3 linked regions of the Homo sapiens genome follow. The protein of the gene in region 1 interacts with the protein of each later gene in a pairwise test. Each region holds a gene or a part of one and is shown on either strand. Other genes may lie near its edges.

Region 1 (8,054 bases):
GCCTGACGTGTCTGATGATGGCACATGCTGCTGTGTGGTAGTTGCTTAGTCACTGGGGATATTTTAAGTTTACCTGGCAAGGAGTCTGTGGAGAAGATTCAAGTACAAATTCAGGCAACAACTGACCCAATGTTAACTGTGGCTTTAAGAGACTGATTCAGTGGGCCGGGCGCGGTGGCTCACGCCTGTAATCCCAACACTTTGGGAGGCCGAGGTGGGCGGATCACAAGGTCAGGAGATCAAGACCATCCTGGCTAACACAGTGAAACCCCGTCTCTACTAAAAATACAAAAAATTAGCCGGGAATGGTGGCGGGCACCTGTAGTCCCAGCTACTCGGGAGGCTGAGGCAGAAGAATGGCGTGAACCCAGGAGGCGGAGCTTGCAGTGAGCCCAGATTGCAGACTATGATTCACTTTGGGAGGCCGAGGCAGGCGGATCACCTGAGGTCAGGAGTTTGAGACCGCCTAGCCAACACAATGAAACTACTAAAAATACAAAATTAGCTGGGCATGGTAGCACATGCGTGCCTATAATCCCAGCTACTCGGGAGGCTGAGGCAGGAGAATCACTTGACCTGGGAGGTGGAAGGTTGCAGTCAGTGAGACTGCGCCACTGCACTCCAGCCTGGGCAACAAAAGCAAAACTCCATCTCAAAAAAAGAAAAAAAAAGGCCAGGCGCGGTGGCTCAAGCCTGTAATCCCAGCACTTTGGGAGGCCGAGGCAGGCAGATCACGAGGTCAGGAGATCGAGACCATCCTGGCTAACATGGTGAAACCCCGTCTCTACTAAAAATACAAAAAATTAGCCAGGTGTGGTGGTGGGCGCCTGTAGTCCCAGCTACTCAGGAGGCTGAGGCAGGAGAATGGCGTGAACCCGGGAGGCGGAGCTTGCAGTGAGCCAAGATTGTGCCACTGCACTCCAGCCTGGGCGACAGAGCGAGACTCCGTCTCAAAGAAAAAAAAAAAGAGAGAGAGACTATGATTCATTTGGCAGATCTTAGAAAGGATTTCTAATTCACTGTGCTCTTTCTGATGCTAGACTATAGGCTCCGGGAATAAGCAATGTGTCTTATCTTTTTTGCCTTTTTTTTTTTTTTTTTTTTTTTTGAGACGGAGTCTTGCTCTGTCGCCCAGGCTGCAGTACAGTGGCACGATCTTGGCTCACTACAACCTCCGCCTCCCAGGTTCAACCAGTTCTCTGCCTCAGCCTCCTGAGTAGCTAGGATTACAGGCGCCCACCACCATGCCCAGCTAATTTTTGTATTTTTAATAGAGATGGGGTTTCACCATGTTGGCCAGGCTGGTCTTGAACTCCTGACCTCATGATCCACCCACCTCGGCCTCCCAAAGTGTTGGGATTAGAGGCATGAGCCACCACGCCCGGCTCTTTTTTGCCTTTTCTATGGCTGAGGTAGACCCAACTTTTCCTAAGCTTCTAATCCTCTTTGCTCCCACTCCAAGATGAAGGCCAACTCTCAATTCAGGCAGTGGGTGCCAAACAGCTGGAGTAGCTGGTTCTAGAAACAATCCCAGGCCATTCTGTAACAGGGTCCTGGGTATCGCAAACTCATGGGTCACAGGGTCTCACCTCCACAGGCTTCCTTCGAAGGATAAAGAAGTTCTCTGCTCGCATCATCATGAAGCGCATGAACTTGTGGCACAAAATCTTCTCGATCTCATCAGCCTGGGGAGTGCAAGAGAGAAATGTTTCTCTAAAGCTGACACCCAAGGCCAAAAACACCTTGTAGCCTGGTCTTCTGACTCCAGTTTTTTCAAGGCTCCCAGGAGACAGTGAGGTTTGGTACTCGGAAGGATCACTGAAGTGGGGGACCTGGCTGTCAACTGAAACAAGGGTCTACCTTGGGGCATCTCTTAATGACGACCCATTCCAGAGAGGTAATTCTGACAGGCTTCTATTGCTTCTTTCAGAGTCTACAGCTGTACTCCAAGCTGCCCTTTCCATTCTCATTTCACTAGTGTCACATTTCCCAGGGTGTTTTGCAGCATCACCTGGGCTATCAGAGATAACCTTAGGTGGTCTCTGCTTTAATAACACTGAACATCCAACAATCCCTGAAGTTTCTCCCTTCTGAATGCTCAACATTTCTTTTTTTTTTTTTTTTTTTTTTTTTCTGAGATGGAATCTCGCTCTGTCACCCAGGCTGGAGTGCAGTGGTACGATTTTGACTCACTGTAAGCTCTGCCTCCCGGGTTCAAGCGATTCTCCTGCCTCAGCCTCCCAAGTAGCTGGGATTACAGGCGCGTGCCACCACGCCTGGCTAATTTCTGTATTTTTAGTAGAGACAGGGTTTTACCATGTTGGCCAGGCTGGTCTTGAACTCCTGACATCAAGTGATCCACCCGCCTTGGTCTCCCAAAGTGCTGGGATTACAGGCATGAGCCACTGTGCCTGGCCCTGAACTCTCAACATTTCTAAAGGAAGATTATTGCTGCTGGTTGCTAGCATGCCCTTAACACCTCTCAACACTTGTTAACCTCCCATTTTAGCAAGGAAAGCAGGCCCCAGGTTTATAAGTTTCTGTAGAAAACAGTGTGTAGTCTGCATTTAATAACAGTGCTTCGTTTTCATCCTGTTGAAAGTTTAGAGTTGCCCTCTACTGGCCAGGCATGGTGGCTCATGACTGTAATCCCAGTACTTTGGGAGGTTGAGGCGGGCCCATCACCTGCGGTCAGGAGATGGAGACCATCCTGGCAAACATGGTGAAACTCTGTCTCTACTAAAAATACAAAAATTAACTGGGCGTGGTGGCGGATGCCTGTAATCCCAGCTACTTGGGAGACTGAGACAGAAGAACTGCTTGAACCCGGGAGGCAGAGGTTGCAGTGAGCTGAGATCATGCTGCTGCACTCCAGCCTGGGCGACAAGAGTGAGAATCCGTGTCAAAAAAAAAGGAAGCAGAGGCTAGGTTTCCTGCACTCTGAATCTGGAATCTGGCACACTGATCTCTCAGATGGGGACCCCGGACTGAAAGAGGCTGAAAGGACTGAAAGAGGCCTTACGTTGGGCCTCCTCCATGGTGAACTTACCTGTTTCACAGCAATGCTGACCCGGACAGAGTTGATGGAGCCCTCAATCAGAACCTTTTCCTTCTCATTCCTGCTGATGGTCACAGGTTGTAACAGGAGCTCTTTGCTACTCCTGAAAACATAATGTGACAGAGTACTTGTACTACAGAGGGATAGAATAGTCAGAGTGACCCCACGCAGGTCCTGGAATCACTATGAGACCATAGAGTCCAAGGAATAGAAGACTCACAAGCAGGAGTGCTCCAAGATGGGGGCCAGTGAGTGTGTTCTTCAGCAGAAAGAGCACAGGCTCTGAAGTCAGGGCGAAAAGGTTTTGAAATCCAGCCTCCTCTGTTACTTTCCTTGGGCAAGTTACCCTGTTGGAATCTCAATTTTCTCATCTGTAAAATGACTCTGATTCCTAATTCACTGGCGAGGACTGAGAGAGATCAAAAAGGGTCAAATGTCTAATAGCGTGCCTGGCACATAGTAGGAGCTTTACAAAAGATAGCTATTTTAGTAACTACAAGTTGAACATCCCCAATCTGCAAATCTGAAATCCAAAATCTGAAACTGGCTGGGCACAGTGGCTCATGCCTGTAATCCCAGCACTTTGAGAGGCTGAGGCTGGTGGATCACCTGAGGTCAGGAGTTCGAGACCAGCCTGGCCAACATGGTGATATCCCATTTGTACTAAAAATATAAAAATTAGCTGGGCATGGTGGCGCACTCCTATAATCCCAGATACTCAGGAGGCTGAAGCACGAGAATTGCTCGAACTCAGGAGGTGGCAGTTGCAGTGAGCCAAGATCATACCACTGTACTCCAGCCTGGGTGACAGAATCAAACTCCATCTCAAAAAAAAAAAAAAACCTGAAAGTTTCCGAGTGCTGACAAGATGCTCAAAGGAGATCCTCATTGGAGCATTTTGGATTTGGAATTAGGGATGCTCAACTGGTTAAGTATCTGCAAATATTCCACAATCTGAAATACTTTTGGTCCCAAGCATTTTGGATAAGAGATACTCAACCTGTACAGGCAAACCAATATACCATTTAGGAATACAGAGAGAACACCTGTCTTAGAGGTAAGGAAAGGCTAAAATTGAACACAGTTTGGCTTCCTTTAATTATCAATCCAGAAATGATTCATTTGCCTCTGAGACCCCTATGAGTTCAGGTTACAAAGTAATGCCTCTGAATACCTAGAGATCTCTAATAGTAATTAATTGTGGTGTGGTGTCTCTAAACTGCTAACCATTTTCAAAGGCCCACTGGAAATCGTGTACGTTACACAGTATAACAGGGCATATCCTAACATCTTTATCAGTTATTTTTAAAATTAAAAATTAAATCGTATCATTTAATGTTGTAACCCAGATTATCTCAGTTATGTATGTACCAGAATGAATTTTATTTTATTTTATTTTATTTTATTTTATTTTTGAGACGAAGTCTTGCTCTGCTGCCAGGCTGGAGTGCGGTGGCACGATCTTGGCTCACTGCAACCTCCGCCTCCCAGGTTCAAGCAATTCTCCTGCCTCAGCCTCCCGAGTAGCTGGGACTACAGGTGCATACCACCATGCCCAGCTTATTTTTGTATTTTTAGTAGAGACAAGGTTTCACCATGTTGGCCAGGATGCTCTCGATCTCTTGACCTCATAATCTGTCTGCCTCGGCCTCCCAAAGTGCTGGGATTACAGGCGTGAGCCACTGTGCCCGGCCTATTTACTTATTTTTTGAGACAGGGTCTCACCCAGGCTGGAGTGCACTGTCGCAATGTTGGCTCATTGCAACCTCTGCTTCCCAGGCTCAAGAGATCCTCCTGCCTCAGCCTCCAGAGAAGTGGGACTACAGGCATGTGCCACCATGCCTGACTATTTTTGCATATTTTTTTGGTAGAGATGGAGTCTTGCCATGTTGCCCAGGCTGGTCTTGAACTCCTGTACTCAAGCGATCTACCCACTTCAGCCTCCTAAAGTGCTCGGATTACAGGGGTGAACCACTGCACCAGGCCTCCAGATTAAATTTTAAAGGGGAAAAAGATATTTATGAAATGGAAACTAGATAAGAGAAAATCATTCAAAATATGAAGTATTTGGATTAGGGGGTCAGAGTGTCTAGGCTGGTAGGTAAAAAAAAAATCCCTGATCATTACATTAGAAAAGTATGGAGATGGGAAAAAAAAAAAAAAAAAAGAAAAGTATGGAGATGGAATCTCAGATAACAATTATCTGACCATTCCTTAAACTACCAGTGTTTTCAACAATGCCACAGGAGAGACTTCATCAACAGCCCTGCTCTGAGAAGTCATACCTTGTGTTAACCAATCTTGTCTTTTCCCCTGGGTTCTGTCCTGCCAACCCACTGACCCTATTTTCTTAACTCCAAATTGGGAATCACCATTCAGCTGGCAGCAAGACAAAATGTCAACTGCAGCTTTCCTGACTACTGCAGGACATAAGTTCATGGCACCTTCTAGACAGCAGCCATCTCTGTGTGCTGCACCCCTCATCCCCACCTTGACTTGTCCTTCCCTACCTGACTTCCACTTCCGGCTTGTTGTGTCGTTCCACAACCTGGGAGGAGAAGTTCTCCAGGCAGAGGGCAGCCTGCAATGTGGCCCGCACGGCACTCAGGTAGGGGCGGAGAGTGGCAGTCTATAGGAAATAACACAGAGGAAAGGGAAGATCAAAATCTGTCACGCCAAACCCACCGATCCCCTATTCCAGCTCCCATGAAGCCAGGTAGCACTGAGGGTGCAAGGCTCTTAAGACACTACTGTGAACAGAACAGACTAGGCCTTCGAGACGCCTTCCAAGGTGTAGAGTGGTAGTTTTCAACAGGAGACAATTTTGCCTGCCAGGGTACATTTGGTAATGTCGAGACATTTCCTTTCTTTCTTTTTTAACCTGGGGTCAGACCAGAGGAATGCTGAGACATTTTCAATTGTCATGACTTGGCAAGAAGGGGAACTGCAGGCATTCAGTGGACAGATATCCACTAAACATACTACAATGCACTACAAAGAATTATCGAGACTCAAATATCAATAGTGCTAAGGTTGAGAAAGTGATCTAGAGACACACCAGTGAATGCATGATTGTCGTCAATCTATTAGGCCAACAAATGTATAGGTGTACTGTTTGCCACGCACTGAGCTAACTGGGAATTCAAAGATGATTAACACTGTCTCTACCCTCAAACAGCTCAACTGGATAGCAAATATACAGAAAATAACTATGATATAAAGATGACATGTGAAATATTTAGATTTACAAGTAATCTATATTTGCAGAAGAAACTGGTTTTGAAGGTGAAATGGGATTAGGAGGAGAAAAAGGAGAATAAGGACATTCTTTTTTTTTTTTTTTTTTTGAGACAGAGTCTCGCTCTGTTGCCCAGGCTGGAGCGCGGTGGCACGATCTCGGCTCACTGCAAGCTCCACCTCCCGGGTTCATGCCCTTCTCCTGCCTCAGCCTCCCAAGTAGCTGGGACTACAGGCGCCCACCACCACACCCGGCTAACTTTTTGTATTTTTAGTAGAGACAGGGTTTCACGGTGTTAGCCAGGATGGTCTCAATCTCCTGACCTTGTAATCTGCCCGCCTTGGCCTCCCAAAGTGCTGGGTTTACAGGCGTGAGCCACCACACCCTGCCAGAATAAGGACATTCTTAGGAGAGGGATTAGCTTCTAGCTGCACTGGTCAGTCCTTGTATCAGCCAAATTCTTTCCCACCTCAGAGCTTTACACATGCTTGACCATCTATCTGTAGGCTTTTCTCCTCTTTCTTTGCCTAAGTCATCCTCCAGATCTCAGCTTAATTAAGGAAGGCCTCTTGAGAGAGACCTTGACATCCCCCTATAAAGTATTTATTACAATTGACAAAAAAATGTCTTTCATGTCTTCTTAATATTTATTTTTGAGAGGGAGTCTCGCTTCTGTCACCCTCGCTGGAGTGCAGTGGCACGATCTCTGCTCACGGCAATCGCCGCCTCCTGGGTTAAAGCGATTCTCCTGCTTCAGCCTCCCGAGTAGCTGGGATTACAGGCGCACATCACCATGCCTGGCTAATTTTTGTATTTTTAGTAGAGACGGAGTTTCACCGTGTTGGTCAGGCTTGTCTTGAAATCCTGACCTCAGGCAATCCGCCCACCTCGGCCTCTCAAAGTGTTGGGATTACAGGCGTGAGCCAACGTGCCTGGCCTTTTTTATTTTTTTTTGAGACAGAGTCTTACTCTGTTGTCCAGGCTGGAGCGCAGTGGTGCAATCTTGGCTCACTGCAACCTCCACCTCCCGGGTTCAAGTGATTCACCTGCCTCAGCCATGCGAATAGCTGAGATGACAAGTGTGCACCACCGTGCCTGGTTAATTTTTGTATTTTTAGTAGAGATGGGGTTTCGCCATGTTGGCCAGGCTGGTCTCAAACTCCTGACCTCAAGTGACCCGCCCATCTCGGCCTCCTAAAGTGCTGGGATTACAGACATGAACCACTGCACCTGCCCTCCTTCATGCCTTTGTAAGTGATTTCTCCTTTACTAGGCTGTAAACCTCATGGTCAACAGACCATATCTATTTTATTCACAGCTATATAGCCTCCAACCTAGCTCAGTACCTAACATATACAGTGTCTCACTCATTTCCTGTAGAATAAATAAGCGAAAGAAATAATTAAGATTAGAGTAACACAAAAGGACAGCAAGAGTTCCAGAGTAGTAATGAGTACAATGTTTCTGTATATGAGAAGCATTTTAGATTCACTAAATGAGGCTGCAGCGGTAGGCTGAGGTAAGATCATGGGGAATCTTGAATGCCAGGCTACCAAGTTTAGCTTTTCTCTTAAGGGGGTAAGGAACTACTGGGGCTTTCTGAGGAGGAAGTTCATGACTGCAGCTGCATGATGGCTCTGTGGAGAATGATTTGGAGAGGGAAGTGAGACATACAGCAGACTGTATCACAAGCAAAGAGTATCACAAGCGTTGGACTGACATTAGATGGAGTGGATAATGGAACTGAAAAAAAACTTC
Region 2 (8,054 bases), on another chromosome or scaffold:
TCGAAGAATGGGTACTCTCTGCTGAGAGAAGTTCCTGATAAATATATATTATACCAAAGTCAGCTGGAAAATCTAGAATTTCTTGGCCACAAGTTAAGAGAGATCTTAAATTGGCATTACCCTGAAGACATTTCTAGGAAATTTAAAATGTTTTTTATATTGTCAAAAAGAAAAAATTTTTTCAATTAACATTACTTAAAATAATTATAATGTTCCATTTAACTTTTGTACAAACTCCTGATTTTATTGGTTAGTAGTTGTCCAGCCTCATCTGCACCAGATTGACTGAGCTCAAGCCACAATAAAAATGATAGTAAGTAGAAAAAGGTTTCTAGCAGCAGAGGGCACTGTTGTTGCAAGAAACAAAAAGTCTAGAATCTTTCCCATGTGCTTAAATTACTCTTGCAAGAAAGATAACATTCTTTGAATAACTTAAGTATTTTACTGCACCACTTACTGCTTTCAGCAACAAAACCTTTTAAATTATTTCTTATGATAACTAGATGCATGATCACTAGAGATTATGTAATAAATGGTTAAAATTCAAGCCACATCTTGCAGGTCCAGCCTGTCAAGATCTGCCAATACGAGATTTTGGTTGGTACAATTCTAGATAGCGTAATTTTTAGTTGGATATTGTGACTATAGTAATGAAATACATTTGGAACTACATTATGCATATTACTCAATGTGAGAAAAATATGTTTGTATTTAAATCAGATAATTTTCTACCTAAAATTTAAAGTAGGTAGGTATGATAATTAGCATTATAAATATGAAACAACCACCTTTAGGCAGATTAGTGTAGTGTAGAGAGGCAAAGAAACCCTAATTTTAACACACCATTTAGTATGCATAACAAATGTGCAGGTTGTAAAGTTTTATCTTTAAAAAAAAAAAATCTATCATTCAGTTATCTGTTCCAAGAACTCTGACATTGGGACCACCAATCTTTTAAGAAAAATGTAACTCTTCACATGCTATTTGACAAAAACCCTCAAAAGTTATCCAAATCAATGCATGTTCGGTTCCGTGTTTTAGCGCACACCTTTGCCAACTAGATTACATTTTTATGGTTGGTATTTCTGAACACCTCAATCCACACAAAGTGCAAAATAAAAATGCTAAAATTCTACAGTATTTTAGTACTATTCTGATTTGTATAGTTTTTTTAACCAAATATTGGAGTTACCATAATATTACCTCAGTTCATGTAGAATGAAAACTACTCCCTAAATCCCTGAAACTCCAACTTAAATTTTGTTTCAGAGTAATACCAAAAAAATTTTCAAAAATTTTGCTAAAAAGAGCCTGTCACATTTGCTACAGCATAAAAATAACCCCAGTCAATAACAAGTATTTAAGGGCTCCTTATGATCCCAGTCTGCAAATACCACTGCTATACCAATAACAGGCAGTATTACTGTAAGAGGTGTGTTAATCGTCTTCCCCACTAGTATCTCTGTAGTGATTTTATGTAGAGCATATTGCTAAAATTTGAGAAACTACATCGGTGTAGTGATGTCTACAGAACTGTGCAATGTATCAGCTTCAACATTCATATGTAGCATTGTATTCAAAATAAAGGGGCTAAAGAAACTAAGGTCTGCATCACTTAAAAAAGAATGTAGTGCTATACTAGATTTTTTTTTAAGAAAATTTAGGTACAGAAAAAGTAGGGTATGAAAATAGTGTTTTCCTTCTGGCATTATAAGTAAATTACATTAAGGTTTTTGTCAGTCTCACATATAGTATTTAAACTCCCTTGTTGATGGAATGAAAAATATTCACAAATCAAGTGAGCATCCTGGTGTAAACTTGCACACAATAACAGGGAGTAGCTTTGTAGAGGATTACGACAAACCTTTACAGATTAAATGAGGTATTGCACAGATTAAAAAAAAGCAAAAAAGGCAACAAAAATATACAGCAAATTGGTAGAACATTTACATGATAATTTTACAGAATCCACAGACAGAAAGTAGTGTTTAGTATTTCACCTTAAAAATATATATATATATATAATATATAGATCAGTCTTCCCACTCATCATCATCCTCAAAATCTTCTTCATCATCTTCATCTTCATCTTCATCTACAAGAAAATCAAGACAATTAAAACATATGCATAAATAAAATGACATTACATAATTCTTGGGTGGTTTCTCCAATTATTTAACTCCTGAAACACAGATAATGTGACTCCCAGAAGAATCTAGTTACTAAAACAGTTTAAAGTGAATCTAAAGAAATATATCTATAGAGTATGATAGTAAACTAAAGATTAAAACAGGGCTTAGAAGACAATGGTTCTAGTTCCTTAATATCTATGTGACAAATTTCAACCTGTTAATGTATAAAATCATCTGGGTTGACCTTTCTGTCACAAATCCAACTACCTTCTTGTACTCTTCATATGGATTCTCAAACTCAAAACTTCTAACTTTTATTTCCTTCCCCAATCTTCTTTTCCTGCTCCATCCTGGTCTGCTGCTCCATCTCAATAAATGGCATCACCATCCTGTCACATAATCAGGCCAAAAACCTAGAAATTATTATTACTTCCTCCTTTTTCACGATCCAATTATCAAGCCTGCTCTTTTTCACCTCTTTCACTGCTACTCTCCACACCACCATCACATCCTGCTTGGATTATTGCAACTCTAGAGTCTATTTGACTCAGAGCAAATGGAGTGATATTATTTAAATTTCAAGTTTAAAAAATATGTTGCTACCCTTCTTAAAGTCCTCCTGTGGCTACCACTGCTATTTGAATGAAATCTGATGCTACCTCCCTCCATAAGACCCTACATGATTTGTCCAGTTATTGTCTCTCTCTCTCCCCAAACTTCTCTCATATGTACTCTCCCTTCAAGTCACTCTCTCTAGTAAGATGGTCTCCTTTCTGTCCCTTAAACTCACCAATCTTATTCTGGCTTTAGAACTTCTGCAGTAGCTATTTCTTCGTTAAACTGAATCTTTTCATCATTTAGAAACCATTCATAAACTACTTCCTCAGAGAGGCCTTTCCTGACCATCATATGTAAAGTATAGCTCTTCCCCATAATCAGTAACGGCCTATCCCATTTTACTTTCCTCATATCACTTGCTAATATCTAAAATTATTGTACTTTATCTATTAAGCTCCATGACAGCACGGACCTTGCCTATCTTATTTCTCACTGTATCCTCAACACCAAAACAGCACTACACACCAGCCATTCAATAAATATTTGTTGAAGGAATATTTAGTTATCAGATTTTATAAGCATACTTCTATATTATACTGACTTTCCATATTTAACCTCTTCATATATCTATATATAAAATATGTATAAATATATACACCTATAAATATATAAATACATATACCTATATATAAATATATAAATATATATAAATATGTATATAAATATATATATAGGACCCATGAAGGCCAAGTATATAAAGTGGGACAGTGGCTGAGTAATTGTACTTGATAATGATAAAAAGCCAGTAAGACTAGGTGACATACGTGTGGGTTACATGTACAGAACACAGAACAATCTTTTTCTTCTATTTTTCTCATGTAAAATTGATTGTGTGAAGGTAGTATTTGAAGAAGTACTGGAGCTCTAGTATTAGAACTTGAAAATTAACAGAAGCCCAAGAGAAGCAACATTATCTTCTCTTAGCCCTAAACTAAGTTGTTACTTTTAAAACGATAATTATTTATTATTTATTTATTTATTTATTTAAGTCTCATGGTCAGCTCTAAATTGTTACAGAATTTATTTGGAAAGGAGTTCAATTGAGTCATGTTAATTTCTGTTTACTCTTCTAGCAAGGGAAATAATTTGCTACCAGATTTTGCTAGACATGCTTCACAAAATTTACCTGGATGAAAAGCATCAAAGACACCTGACTATGCTGGCATTACAGACTGACAAAAGACAGAAACTTATCAGTATCTATGGTGAAGAGGAAGAAGTAGCTAATAATTTCATCATCAGGTACTACCACAGAAATACTAACAGTTAAAATAAATGGGTCTGAAAATAAGTAAAAACCATCCTATATTTTCATTATATTAGCGTGACTATTACATACTATTAAAAAAAAACTTATTGTAGGGAAATATTTAGCAGAACTCACAGATACCAGCATAGAATAAATGCTTTTTCAGAATCATGTAGTTCACAGAAGCCTTACATTTCTTTATGAATGAATGAAGACCTTTCTTTATCTCTTCCTAGCAAACAACCTCTAAACAAAGCTTGAGATTTTTAGATCTCATTCCTATGACATTACTATGACATAAAAAATTCAGGCAGTTTACCTCATCTGTGAGGATTAGGGCTAAGAATTTAGGTAATTTTCACTGTTTTTATGCTAAAGAAGACTATACCATAAACATAACCATAACTTTAAATACCAGGTGTCTATGTATATCCTACTGACATGCAATTTAACAATTCAGACCTCTCCTGTGACTTCCAGACTCATAACGAAATGCCTACTCCACATCTATAGTTGAATTAATAGGTATCTCAAATTTAATATGTAAAATCAAACTCCTAATCTTCCCTCTCAAACTTTTTCTTCGTAAGTCTTTCCCCTTTCCAGTTGTTCAAGTCAAAAACCTTGGAGTCATTTTGCACTCTTCTTTTTCTTCAACCTTCACTTTCAAACCATCATCAAAACCAGTGATCTCCACATTCAAAATATAATTAATATTTAACCACTTCTCATTGGTGCTATAAACCTGGTTCAAGCCTCCATCACCTCTTGCTTGGATCATTACTACACCTCTGCTAAAAACCCTCCAATGGCTTCCCATCATATGCAGAATAAAAGCTAGTGCACTTTCAGGGGTCTCCAAAGCCTTACCACTGGCCTCCTACTACTTCTTGTATTTCATTCCTTACTATTCTTTCCCTCCCTCCCTTGCAAGCTCCGTGATCTCCTCATTGTTTCTCAACCTCACAGACTTTATATTTTCTGTTCTTTCCATCGGATACACTTTCCCTAGTTTTCTACATGGTTCACTTCCTGAACTGCTGGTCTTTTCTCAAATGTCACCTCAGTTAGGCTTTATTGTCCCTTATCATCCTTTATCATTTCAAAATGAACCTCTCTCTCAACAGTCTGCCCCCTATTTCCCTTTTCTGTTAGACTTTTGTCCTTACTTCATGTCACCATTTAACATACTGTATGTTTTTCTAGTTTTCTTTGTTTATTGCTTGTCTCTCTCTCTCATTAGACCTAATGCATGTCGATGAAGGCAGGGACTTTTTTTTTGTTAAAATTTTATTATTATTCCACAATAAATATTTATCTCTATCTCTGTAATGGAGGGTAGGTACAAATATGCCTATTTAAGGAAAACAAACATTGCTCAAGGATCTTAAGACATGGACATCCTTACAGAGAAACAAAAGGAAGGTAACATTTATTAAGCACCTACTATGTGCTAGGCAATCTGCAGGTTAGTGACATACTATTTAATTCTCACATCTATATGTTTTGTGAGTTCTCTGAATGTAACAAACAAGAAACTGAGGCTCACAGAGATTAAATAAATCTAAGAAGAAAGATCTGATTCTAGCACATCATGTTGGAGAAGCTATTTAGCAAACCTCAACTACTCCAATCAGCAAAACTCATATTCTTGTTCTTTCTTTAAAGGAATATTTATATGGTGGTATGTATATGTTTAATAATAACCTCAGAATAGGTACTGGTTTCTTCAAATCAACCTTTTAGAAAATGAAAAAGAAAGGTTTAAAAAAAGTTAGTATTCTTTAGCAAACTCTAGAAACAGTAAAAATTACTGAAATTCTTATCCCTAATCCTTACAGATGAGGTAAATGGCCCGATTTATTATTATTATTATTTATTCATTTTATTTTTGAGACGAAGTTTTGCTCTTGTTGCCCATGTCGGAGTGCAATGGTGCGATCTTGGCTCACCACAACCTCTGCCTCCTGGGTTCAAGCAATTCTCCTGCCTCAGCCTCCCGAGTAGCTGGAATTACAGGCATGCGCCACCACGCCGGCTAACTTTTTTGTATTTTTAGTAGAGATGGAGTTTCTCCATGTAGGCCAGGCTGGTCTCGAACTCCCGACCTCAGGTGATCCACCCGCCTCGGCCTCCCAAAGTGCTGGGATTACAGGTGTGAGTCACCGCACCCAGCCCTGAATTTTTCATGTCACAGTAATGTCACAGGAATGAGATCTAAAAATCTCAAGCTTTGTTTAGAGGTTGTTTGCTAGGAAGTCTATTAGCATTTCCTGATATAGGAAACAAAACTGTCAATATTCCCAAAGCTGTTCTTTCAATTTATGGCTATGGCTGTGGTGGTGTTGCATTTGTTAAGTCTCAGAGAGACTAGTCACACAGGCAACAACTTTTTAAAATACATCCTAGAGCCCACATCAGTAGTTACTCAATTAGCAGAGAGAAAGCTAGCAAAGACAGTCATAAAAATAACAGAACGTCAAACATTCAAATTTATTAAACACACACGCACACTCTCTCTGTCTCTCTCTCTCTCTCTCTCTCTCTCTCTCTCTACCTGAAGAATGAATGGCTTTGCTCCTTTTCTGCATCACTTCCATTAATGCACCCACAATTCCTGAAGTGGGTGCAGGTGTTGGTGGTGTAGACTCTTGGCCATCAGCCACCTTGGAAAAGAAAGTTAGCAAAACTCAGTAATAAATCTTTAGCCAAGAATCTTTGTCTCCAGAAAGTCCTACTTTCTTAGAATCACTTCTTATTGTAAAAGACAAAAAAGATATCAAACTGGCAAGCGCAGGACAAGATTAATCAAATTAACAAGAAATAAACTGCTGCCTTAAAGATATTATTCAAAAATATTTCCTTTCCATCTTAATGTATAAGCCAAAAATACATTTCCAAATCTATGTTTACATTCAGATAACAAACCCTCTCCTGAATAATACTTGCTGGGTTACTTCTGTTTATTCCAGCACACACAGACTTAGATGATCAACTTTAAAGCTTTTATCAAGGGATTTCATGTTATAAACAGAGGTTAATACTTAGACTCCAGAGTTGTTACGTGGGACGCACACTGAAGATATTGAAAAACAACTGTAGAAACTTATATTTGCCTACAAAAATTCAGCTTTACACCTTTATGTTACATTTATACCTTCAAAATGAACCTCTTTTCTCATAGTATATAATTTCTTTTTAAGGAGATGAGTTGATCAACTTTCAAAATGTACCTGCCTCACTAGGCAAGTAACAATCCCTAACTGAAGTACTTCCAGCTGTGCCAAAGTGCATTCATGAAAAAAAAAATTATAATTAAAGATGAAACAGCATAGCTGTATTAAATAATTACCTATGTTTTAATACATACATATATAATATATATTTTTGAAATTCTTAATCATTTCCCAAAGACAATTTTATTTAGACAAACTTTCCATTTTGATCTGTACAATTCTTCCTCTAATACTCCTTGTTCTTTCTGGAGTAAACACCTTTTTTAAAAAAATTCAAAGTGGTTCCCCCTAAGATATAGATTCATTCCTTAGTATTTTGGCTTTAAACATTATGTATTAACTATTTCCAGTATAGAAGTACCACAAATGAAAAAAGATAACAGAGAGTTTCAGAGCTTTGTATTTCTGCACAAGGCTCTCAAGGAGGTACAACAGCGGTAGGGACATTTAGACTACCTTTAAGCAATGTGATAATGTAAAGCAGAGAGCACAAAGCAGAAGTGAGCATACTCTCATCAAACACATTTTTTGAAGTGCTTACTTGAACAAAGTACTATTTGAGGTACTAAAACCATGGAATTCAAAAATATATGTGAGTATTCAATACCTCCTACTAGCTCTTTAAAGTAAGTCTATGGTTTTATGTTAATCATATTCATCACAGAATAAATTGATGATTTACTCAAAAAATTTAAAGAAACATAGCCATAGAAATTTCAACCACAAAATGGTCTTTTTCAAAAAATAACGAACTCGGATTACATGTATAACATGCCAATAGTTCACTGATTATGCACCCTATGATTGCAATAAATGCAA
Region 3 (8,921 bases), on another chromosome or scaffold:
ATGGGGTTTCACCGTTTTAGCCAGGATGGTCTCGATCTCCTGACCTCGTGATCCGCCCGCCTCAGCCTCCCAAAGTGCTGGGATTACAGGCGTGAGCCACCGCGCCTGGCCTCAATTTCTTTAAATTTTTTGAAGAACACTTTTAATACTACCTATATTATAACATTGAATAGGTCTGAGGAACTTACAGAATGTTTATATTCTGTCTACATCACTTCCTAAAAACAAAAAACATCCTTTTCACTGGGACTCTGGCTGTATGTATGTCACAGGCACTCCAGCGAGCTTAATCAAGAAAGGAAAATGTCTTGTCTGGTTACCCTGGGTTCCCATGGGACCTGAGAACCCAGGTGCAGCCAGGAAGGGCTCAGGACAAGAGAGGCATCAGGAAAACGGCAGCTGGCAGCTCAGCCCCAAGTTTCTGCTGGTGACTGCTCTCTGTAGAATGGTTTCTCCATCTATACCGCACAGTGAAGATGGCCCCATACAGGCATGGCTTTATATCTCTCCTTTGCTCAAGGGACCGGCCCAGACTGAATGTATTAGGATTGTTTTTCTTCTTCAGGATATGGAAAAAAAAAAAAAAAGCTGCTCAAATGACAGCTTAAGCTAATTAGGGAATTTAATGGCTCAAATAACTGAAAATTCCAGGACAGCTGGATCCAGGTGGTCAAACATCAACAGGAGGCAGCCTCTCTCTCCACCAGCGCCTTCACTGGCCACATTTGCTGCTAGTTTTGTTCTCTTGGGACCAGATGGCCAATAGGACCTCTAAATTTCTATCCTTCCCCAACAGGCTGGTTCTCTGAGAGTCTCAAGTCTCAGAATGGGTTCTGGTTAGGCCCAGCTTTGGTTACATGTTCACATCTCACCTACCTGTGGCCAGGTGGAAGGACTGTGTTCATATTGGCCAGGCCTGGGGCATGTGCCTGATCATGTAGTAAGGGCTGAGGATAGACCAGTCCAAACACATAACAGTATAAGCAAATGCTCTATAAAATGTGTTTGTTGGGCGCAATTCTAAGTAGATAAGTTAACTCATTTTAATCTCAGGTTATCTTTGTTGTTTACTCATACAATAATCACATTATCCCTATTTTATAGATGAGGACATTGAGACACAGGTTAATGCATTTCACCCAAGCCCTCACAGCTAATAAATTGCAGAGCTGAGTTGGTGCAGAACTTGCACTCCAGAAGCTGGGCTCCTGACCATCAGCAGAAGAGAACTGCTGCTACCAGGAAAATGAGAAATAGATGTTGGGCAGGCAGTAACAACAGATGTCTGATAGTCACTCTGCATTCTTTCTGCAGAGAGAATTATGTACCCAGCGTGGGGTTGGGTATCCACCCTGGCCTAAAAAGGGAACATGCCTGGGGGAACATAGGGATCAAGCTGTGCCAAGGTAGTAGCAAGGTGACTGCTTCTACTATGACCTTGGACATGGACTAGTTCCAGGAGACAGGAGGGACAAAGGCCTAAGTGTCCTTCTACCATTATTTTGCAGTCAGGCATCATAGGATTGGGAAAAGGACATTTCAATCATTCAGATAAAAGTAAAAAGCACTATTTTTTTTTTTTTTGAGACAGAGTTTCACTCGTTGCCCAGGCTGGAGTGCAATGGCGTGATCTTGGCTCACTGCAACCTCTGCCTACTGGGTTCAAGAGATTCTCCTGCCTCAGCCTCCCGAGTAGCTGGGATTACAGGCATGCGCCATCATGCCAGACTAATTTTGTATTTTTGGTAGAGATGGGGTTTCTCCATGTTGGTCAGGCTGGTCTCGAACTCCTGACCTCAGGTGATCCGTCCGCCTCGGCCTCCTAAAGTGCTAGGATTACAGGCGTGAGCCACCTCGCCCAGCTAAAGCACTATTTTATACACTGTTAACACTACGATTAAACTGCACTTCGGAATTACAAACAATGCGGGAAGTAAATCTATCTTTTTGCATATTCCTAACAAGACTGTCAGGAGAGGCCAGGCTCAGTGGCTCCCGCCTGTAATCCCAGCACTTTGGGAGGCTGAAGAAGGAGGTGGGGGGATCACTTGAGGCTAGGAGTTCAAGTCCAGCCTGGGCATCATGTCAAGACTCTATGTCAAGACTCTCTCTATACAAAAAATAAAATTAGCTGGGTGTGGTGGCACACACCTGTAGTCCCAGCTACTTAGGAGGCTGAGGTGGGAGGATGCCTGAACCCAAGAGGTCCAGGCTGCAGTGAGCCATGATTGCACCACTGCACTCCAGCCTGGGTGACAGAGTGAGAAGACTCTGTGTCAAAAAAAAAAAAAAAAAAAAAGACTGTCAGAATTTCTTTTTTTTTTTTTTTGAGACAGGGTCTTGCTGTGTCACCCAGGATACAGTGCAGTGGTGTGACTTCAGGACTCACTGAAGCCTCCACCTCTGGGCTCACATGATCCTCCCACCTCAACCTCCCACGTAGCTGGGACTATAGGTGTGCACCACCATGCTCGGCTATTTTTTTTTTTAAATTTTTTTTTTTTTGAGACAGAGTCTCGCTCTGTCACCCAGGCTGGAGTGCAGTGGTGCAATCTCAGCTCACTGCAAGCTCTGCCTCCTGGGTTCACGCCATTCTTCTGCCTCAGCCTCCTGAGTAGCTGGGACTACAGGTGTCCACCACCATGCCCGGCTAATTTTTAGTATTTTTAGTAGACATGGGGTTTCACCGTGTTAGCCAGGATGGTCTCGATCTTCTGACCTTGTAATCCACCCGCCTCAGCCTCCCAAAGTGCTGGGATTACAGGTGTGAGCCACTGCACCTGGCCTTTAAAAAAATTTTTTTAGACATGGGGTCTTACTATGTTGGCCAGGCTGATCTTGAACTCCTGGGCTCAAGTGATCCTCCCACCCTGGCCTCCCAAAGTGTTAGGATTACAGGCGTGAGCCACCACACTTGGCCGACTACTCCAAACAATATGTAGTCTGCCACACACCAACTTGTTTTTAGGATTAAAAATGTATTTTCAAATATTCAGTGGACCACTGGCTTATTTTGATAAAAACAGAGCTCTGCTTAATGGCTACACTGCTATACGAGTTGCATATGTTCCTCAATATTCCTTTTGGTGCTTCCTGAGCCATCTGATACAGCTTAGAACATTGGGAGGACAAGACGGTTGAGAAAAAGTAAATGACACCTTCCTAGAAAACTCATAATATAATGAGGCACATGTTCCATGTTAGAGTGCTGGAGAGGTGGGGAAGGTTTTGCTTTGTTTTTTGAGGTCATATGCTTGATTTCAGCAGAAAGGATGGAGAATAGGGAGAAAAAACAGAAGGGGCCCAAGGCTCCATGCCAGGCTTCAGGGATGAGCAGCCTGGGATCTAGCGAGGTTTAGTAATTTCCCAAAGTCATCCCATTTAAAGAGTCAGAGGAATAATTTAAATTTTCCATATTTGTCTGGCCCCAAAGCCCATACATGTTCTTTCTTGTGCCCATTGCTGGTTCTCCCTGCAAAAAGGGACAGAGAGAAAATAAAGGCAAGAAAGGGAGGTCTTCGATAAAGGGAAAGCTGAGAGGCAGAAACACCAAGTGCAGGAGGTAAGAGAGAAAGGAAATACTAAGAGAGAAAGCGAGAGGACCAAAAAAGAAAACGAAAAAGGAGGTAAAAGTCCCTCACTGGTGGTCTTCCAAGTTCCCTGAGGTTACCCTCGAAGCCACAGGCCCCACCTTCCGATGGAAGATTAATCTGGAGGCCGGGGACGCCGCCTACAGGACGGAAGAGGCCAGGAGAGAGAGGTTCAGGCCCCCGCCAGGCTCCCACCGCGGGAAGCAGGCTCCCGGGGGCGGCCCCGGGAGCTCTTAAAAATATCAGCGCTTGCCGGGCGCGGTGGCTCATGCCTGTGATCCCAGCACTTTGCGAGGCCGAGGCGGGTGGATCACCTTTAGTCATGAGTTCGAGACCAGTCTGGCCAACGTGGTGAAACCCCCGTCTCTACTAAAAATACAAAAATTAGCCAGTCGTGGTGGTGGGCCCCTTAATCTAAGCTACTTGGAGGCTGAGGCAGGAGAATCCCTTGAACCTGGGAGGCGGAGGTTGCAGTGAGCCGAGATCATGCCATTGCACTCCACCCTGGGTGACAAGAGCGAAACTCTGAATAATAATAATAAAAAAAAAAAATCAGCGCTCGGGCGGTAGGGGTGGGGGAGGTGGCAGTGGTTCACACCTGTAATCCCGCATTTTGGGAGGCTGAGATGAGCGGATCACCGGAGATCAGGAGTTCAAGGCCAGCCTGGCCAACATGGTGAAGCCCCGTCTCTACTAAAAACACAAAAAAAGCCGGGTGTGGCGGCGGGCGCCTGTAATTCCAGCTACTTTGGAGGCTGAGGCAGGAGAACTGCTTGAACCCGGGAGGTGGAGGCTGCAGTGAGCCGAGATCGCGCCACTGCACTCCAGCCTGGCGACAGAGCAAGACTCCGTCTCAAACAAACAAACAAAATCCCACAAAAATTAGCTGGCGTGCTGGCGCAGGCCTGTAATCCTAGCTACACGGGAGAATGAGGCAGGAGAATCGCTTGAACCCGGAAGGCGGAGACTGCAGTGAGCCGAGTTCGCGCCCTTGCACTCCAGCCTGGGCGACAGAGAGAGACTCCGTCTCAAAACAAAAACAAAAACAAAAACAAAAGCAAAAAACCAAACAAAAAAATCAGCGCTCGGGCCCCCTCCCATGGCCAGCTCTTGGGGCGGGGGACTGGTAAGGGAGGTTTACCCCAGCTGGTTCTAACGTGCAGCCGCGCTGAGAGCGCAGCGGGCGGTGTGGGGCGAGGGGCCCCAGGAGGAAAAAGAAGCCTGCCCCGGGAGGATGCCGGTCCCCGCACGGTCCCACTCAATGGACCCACTCCAGCCGCGCGCTCTGCCAGGGCCTGCGGCCAGGGTACCAGGCCCTCGGCACCTTCCACGTCCAGCGTGGGTCCTCACGGGCAGGTGCGTCTTGGCATCGGGAGGAGGGAGACTGGGGCACTGGAGTCTGCAGCGCCGCCTGGGGCCGGGGCTGGAGCCGAGCGCACGCCCAGAGCTCCGCGCTTCCGACTGCAGCCAGAGCCCGCCGACCCCCGCCCCACTTTAAAAACTTGGACTCGGGCGCCACGTGTTCACTTCCCCCACTGTGCTTTAGTTGAAAAGGGTTTTGTGACTTTTCCACTCGATTGCCGCCAAGCGGGCTATTACGCCGCTTCTGACCCCACCGTGGAGACGCGGGGACTAGAGTGACCATGCCTTCTTCGGAGCGAGCTGTCTCCATCATCCGCTAACGCGCCACCTTTAAAAAACAGGCACAACGCGCAAGCGACAAAGTCAGAGGCAGAGAGCGGCGGAGCACATGATAGAAAAGGTCGAGAGGCACATTCAGCGCCAGGTGGGTGGCTTTTCTCTCCCGCTAGGAGAGCCCAGGGCACCCCATGCTCTCCCTGTGCACCCGCGGCAGTTCGGCACCCCGATCTCACTCTTGCTCCCGCCCCCACAGCGCCTCCCTCGGCGGCGGGGGAAACGGATTAAGTCGTCCGTGTACCCTGGGGACGCACGAGGGAAAGCCCCGGTCCCCCCTCCCGCAACGTCACTCCTCCACCGCGCCACGGCCCGGCCCCGCCCTCGCCGTGAGCTCCGGGGGCACCTGCCGGAGGCTGGGTGCCGGGAGACCGGAAATGCGTGGCTCCGGGCCGGGGCCGCCCGCCCCCGCGTCGCGGGCTCTTTAAGGCCGGCGGTTTTCGCAGCCAGCCCGGGGCGGGGAAAGCGGAGCGCGCGCTCCACGCGGGACCGCCTCCCGGGCCGTAAGTACCGGCGTGGCGGCGCCTCAGCCCGGCCTGGGCGAGCCCTGGGTGCTCCGCCGGGCAGCTCACGGCGCCCCGTATGGCCTGGGGATCCTAAGAGGCCCTGTGACCCCCCTCGCCTGGTCTCCCTCTCACCCCTGGAGGGTTGCCGCAGCTCCGGGGCCCCCGGGCAGGAAGGGCGCACTGGTCGTCCCGGGAGAGGGGTGAGTGGGGGGCAGCTATAGGGGGAGTTCGGGGAGGCCTCCGAGTCCCCGCTGTCCCCGCGAGCCGCTTGGAGGCCCCCAGTGTCGCTCACTTCCAGGGTCGGGGAGACGGAACTGCGGCGACCATGTATTTCTGGTTTATCAAACCGCTAACACCCAGTCTAAGGGCAGGTTCTGTCCCATTGTTATCACTATCGAAGCAGCCGATGGAGGAGGGGAGGTGGGTAGCGAAACCGTAGCGAAAGAACCCGGGCCGCCCGGCTGGCTGCAGCTGCAGTCCGGGCGCCCGGGTCTGGGTTGGAAGCGCTGCTTTCCGCGCTGCTCTGGGGCCCTGGGCGATCACCGCCGCTTCCGCCGCTTGTGTAGTTCTGAATTCACGGAGTGGTAGCAGTGCAGTGTATAGGGTATTCTGCGGAAGTTGGAATGTTCTGGGCTTTTTTTTTCTTCTTCCCCAAACACATCCGTTGACACAAATTCCGAGCCAAATCTCACTCAGATTCGGAAGAGCCATGCAAAAGAAATTGGACAAAGGCTTCCTCCACCTGTTTCTTTTTTTCTTTTGAACTTGTAAACGACCTTAAAAGCATTTGGAGTTAGTTAAGAACAGATAATGTATCTTTTGGCCAGAGCGTCACCCAGGATTCTTTTGCACGGCAGGTCTGAGCAGAGGGCGGGGTGCAGGCGGAATGGCCCTCGTGCCCTATGAGGAGACCACGGAATTTGGGTTGCAGAAATTCCACAAGCCTCTTGCAACTTTTTCCTTTGCAAACCACACGATCCAGATCCGGCAGGACTGGAGACACCTGGGAGTCGCAGCGGTGGTTTGGGATGCGGTAAGTAAGCCCTGGGGGACCTCTGAAAACGTTCACACTTGCAAGACTGGCTTTTATTTTTTATTTTTTTTAGAACAGCTTTATTGAGATATAATTCACATAGCATACACTTTACCTATTTAAAGTGCACAATTCAGTGCGGTTTTAAAAATACAGTATATTCACAGAGTAGTGCAACTATTACCGCTTCAATTTTAAAAGTTTTACTATCACTGCCACTCTCAAACCCGTATCCCTTAGTCACTCCTCTTGTCCCTCCACATAGATTACATTTTAAAGGTGTAAATGAAAGCTGAGGAAAGTTAATGACTTGTCGGAGAGGATAGGAAGGAAAGCCCCCAACTGCTTTGGACACGAGTTAGTCTTTTTTTCTTTTGAGACATAGTCTCGTTCTGTTGCCCAGGCTGGAGTGCAGTGGTGCGATCCTGGCTCAATGCAGCCTCCGCTTCCTGGGTTCAAGTGATTCTCCCACCTCAGCCTCTGGAGTAACTGGGGCTACAGGTGCACGCCACCACACCTGGTTAATTTTTGTATTTTTTGGTAGAGATGGGGTTTCGACATGTTGGCCAGGCTGATCTGGAACTCCTGACCTCAAGTGATCCACCTGCCTCAGCCTCCCAAAGTGCTGGGATTACAGGCGTGAGCCACAGCGCCCAGCCGAGTTAGTCTCTTTATTTCACAGAGTATTGTAAAGTGGCAGAGCCCAAAATGGAGATTATGTGTTTTCTTTAAGTTTTCCATAGTTGTAATTGTTAAAAAATTGTAACTGCTTTTTAACTTCTTCCTCTCCCTGCCCTGTTCTGACTTGAGCCCTCAGCATCTAGCCCCACACCTAGGACTCAGTGGGAACTCAATTAATGTTGAATGCATGATTGGCATAAATACAGTTTGACAGTTTTAACATTGTTAGGGATGTTAAACACGTAGGAATAAAAATCTCAATATATTCTAATGTAGTAATACCACTTCTAGGAATCCAGTCCAGGTAACTACATGGAAGTTACTCTGGTAATAATAAAGATATAGGCCTGGTGTGGTGGCTCACACCTGTAATCCCAGCAGTTTGGGAGGCCGAGGTGGGCAGATCACTTGAAGTCAAGAGTTCGAAACCAGCCTAGCCAACATGGCGAAACTCCATCTCTACTGAAAATACAAAAATTAGCCGTGGTGGCGCACACCTGTAGTCCTAGCTACTCGGAAGGCTGAGGCAGGAGAATCGCTTGAACCTGGGAGGCAGAGGTTGCAGGGAGCTGGGATTGCACCACTGCACTACATCCTGGGTGACAGAGTGAGACTACATCTCAAAAAAAAAAAAAAGATAAATAATAACGAGGAATGGGAAGACTCGTAAATGCTCACCAAGAAGAGGAATTGCCAATTATACTCACAGTATGCGGCTGTGAGAAATAAATTATAGTAACAAGTTATGTTAGCTTTATACACTTCTTTCTGTAGGGTCATAAACAAATGTTGAAACCACACATCAAGTATCCAAAACTTTGGCCAAAACTTACCTTCTGATGCCCAAAACGTATGGTGAGGGCCCCTGTGGGGCGATGACCATCAGTGACGCAGTTCAGAGACCCTTGGGCAATGTGTTGCTTTTTCCCTATGGGTGAAGTTGTGGCTTTGCTGACCTGAGTTTGGTTTAGGAACTGGGCATTCCCTTAAACAAAATCATAGAAATTGTTCATGTCAGTTCTTGCAGAATAGTTGTGTAAACTTCAAGCATAAAAGTGCTGTGACACAGTAAAAAGTTAAGCTTTCCAGGCTGGGTGTGATAGCTCACGCCTATAATCCTAGCACTTTGGGAAGCTGACGCAGGAGCTCAGGAGTTCAAGACCAGCTTGGCCAACATGGCAAAACCCCATCTCTACCAAAAAAACTACAAAAATTAGCTGGGTGTGGTGGTGCACGCCTGTGTCCCAGTTACTGGGGGTGCTGAGGTGGGAGAATCGCTTGAGCTTGGGAGGTGGAGGTTGCAGTGAGCTGAGATTGTGCCACTGCACTCCAGCCTGGGTGACAGATGGACTGAGACTCCATCTCAAAAAAAAAAAAAAAAAAAAATTAAGCTTTCCAGATCCAGCAGGACCCCAT

Evidence for each region.
Region 2: the proteins of ARPC4 (region 1) and WASL interact in binary tests that used the Homo sapiens proteins (3 or more experiments, as listed by UniProt).
Region 3: the proteins of ARPC4 (region 1) and METTL21A interact in binary tests that used the Homo sapiens proteins (3 or more experiments, as listed by UniProt).

The regions. Positions count from the first base shown.
Region 1 is NC_000003.12:9,795,292-9,803,345, reverse strand, and holds part of ARPC4 (actin-related protein 2/3 complex subunit 4), read right to left. Parts: intron 5,688-8,054; coding exon 5,569-5,687; intron 3,162-5,568; coding exon 3,050-3,161; intron 1,686-3,049; coding exon 1,590-1,685; intron 1-1,589. Other genes in the region: ARPC4-TTLL3 fusion protein, read right to left, coding at 1,590-1,685, 3,050-3,161, 5,569-5,687. UniProt on the Homo sapiens protein: Actin-binding component of the Arp2/3 complex, a multiprotein complex that mediates actin polymerization upon stimulation by nucleation-promoting factor (NPF).
Region 2 is NC_000007.14:123,682,486-123,690,539, forward strand, and holds part of WASL (actin nucleation-promoting factor WASL), read right to left. Parts: intron 6,666-8,054; coding exon 6,557-6,665; intron 2,096-6,556; coding exon 2,034-2,095; 3' UTR 1-2,033. UniProt on the Homo sapiens protein: Regulates actin polymerization by stimulating the actin-nucleating activity of the Arp2/3 complex. Involved in various processes, such as mitosis and cytokinesis, via its role in the regulation of actin polymerization.
Region 3 is NC_000002.12:207,622,132-207,631,052, reverse strand, and holds the start of METTL21A (protein N-lysine methyltransferase METTL21A), read left to right. Parts: upstream 1-5,658; 5' UTR 5,659-5,991; intron 5,992-6,064; exon of another isoform or gene 6,065-6,116; coding exon of another isoform or gene 6,117-6,162; exon of another isoform or gene 6,163-6,211; intron 6,212-6,434; exon of another isoform or gene 6,435-6,648; coding exon of another isoform or gene 6,649-6,677; coding exon 6,678-6,824; intron 6,825-8,921. UniProt on the Homo sapiens protein: Protein-lysine methyltransferase that selectively trimethylates residues in heat shock protein 70 (HSP70) family members. Contributes to the in vivo trimethylation of Lys residues in HSPA1 and HSPA8.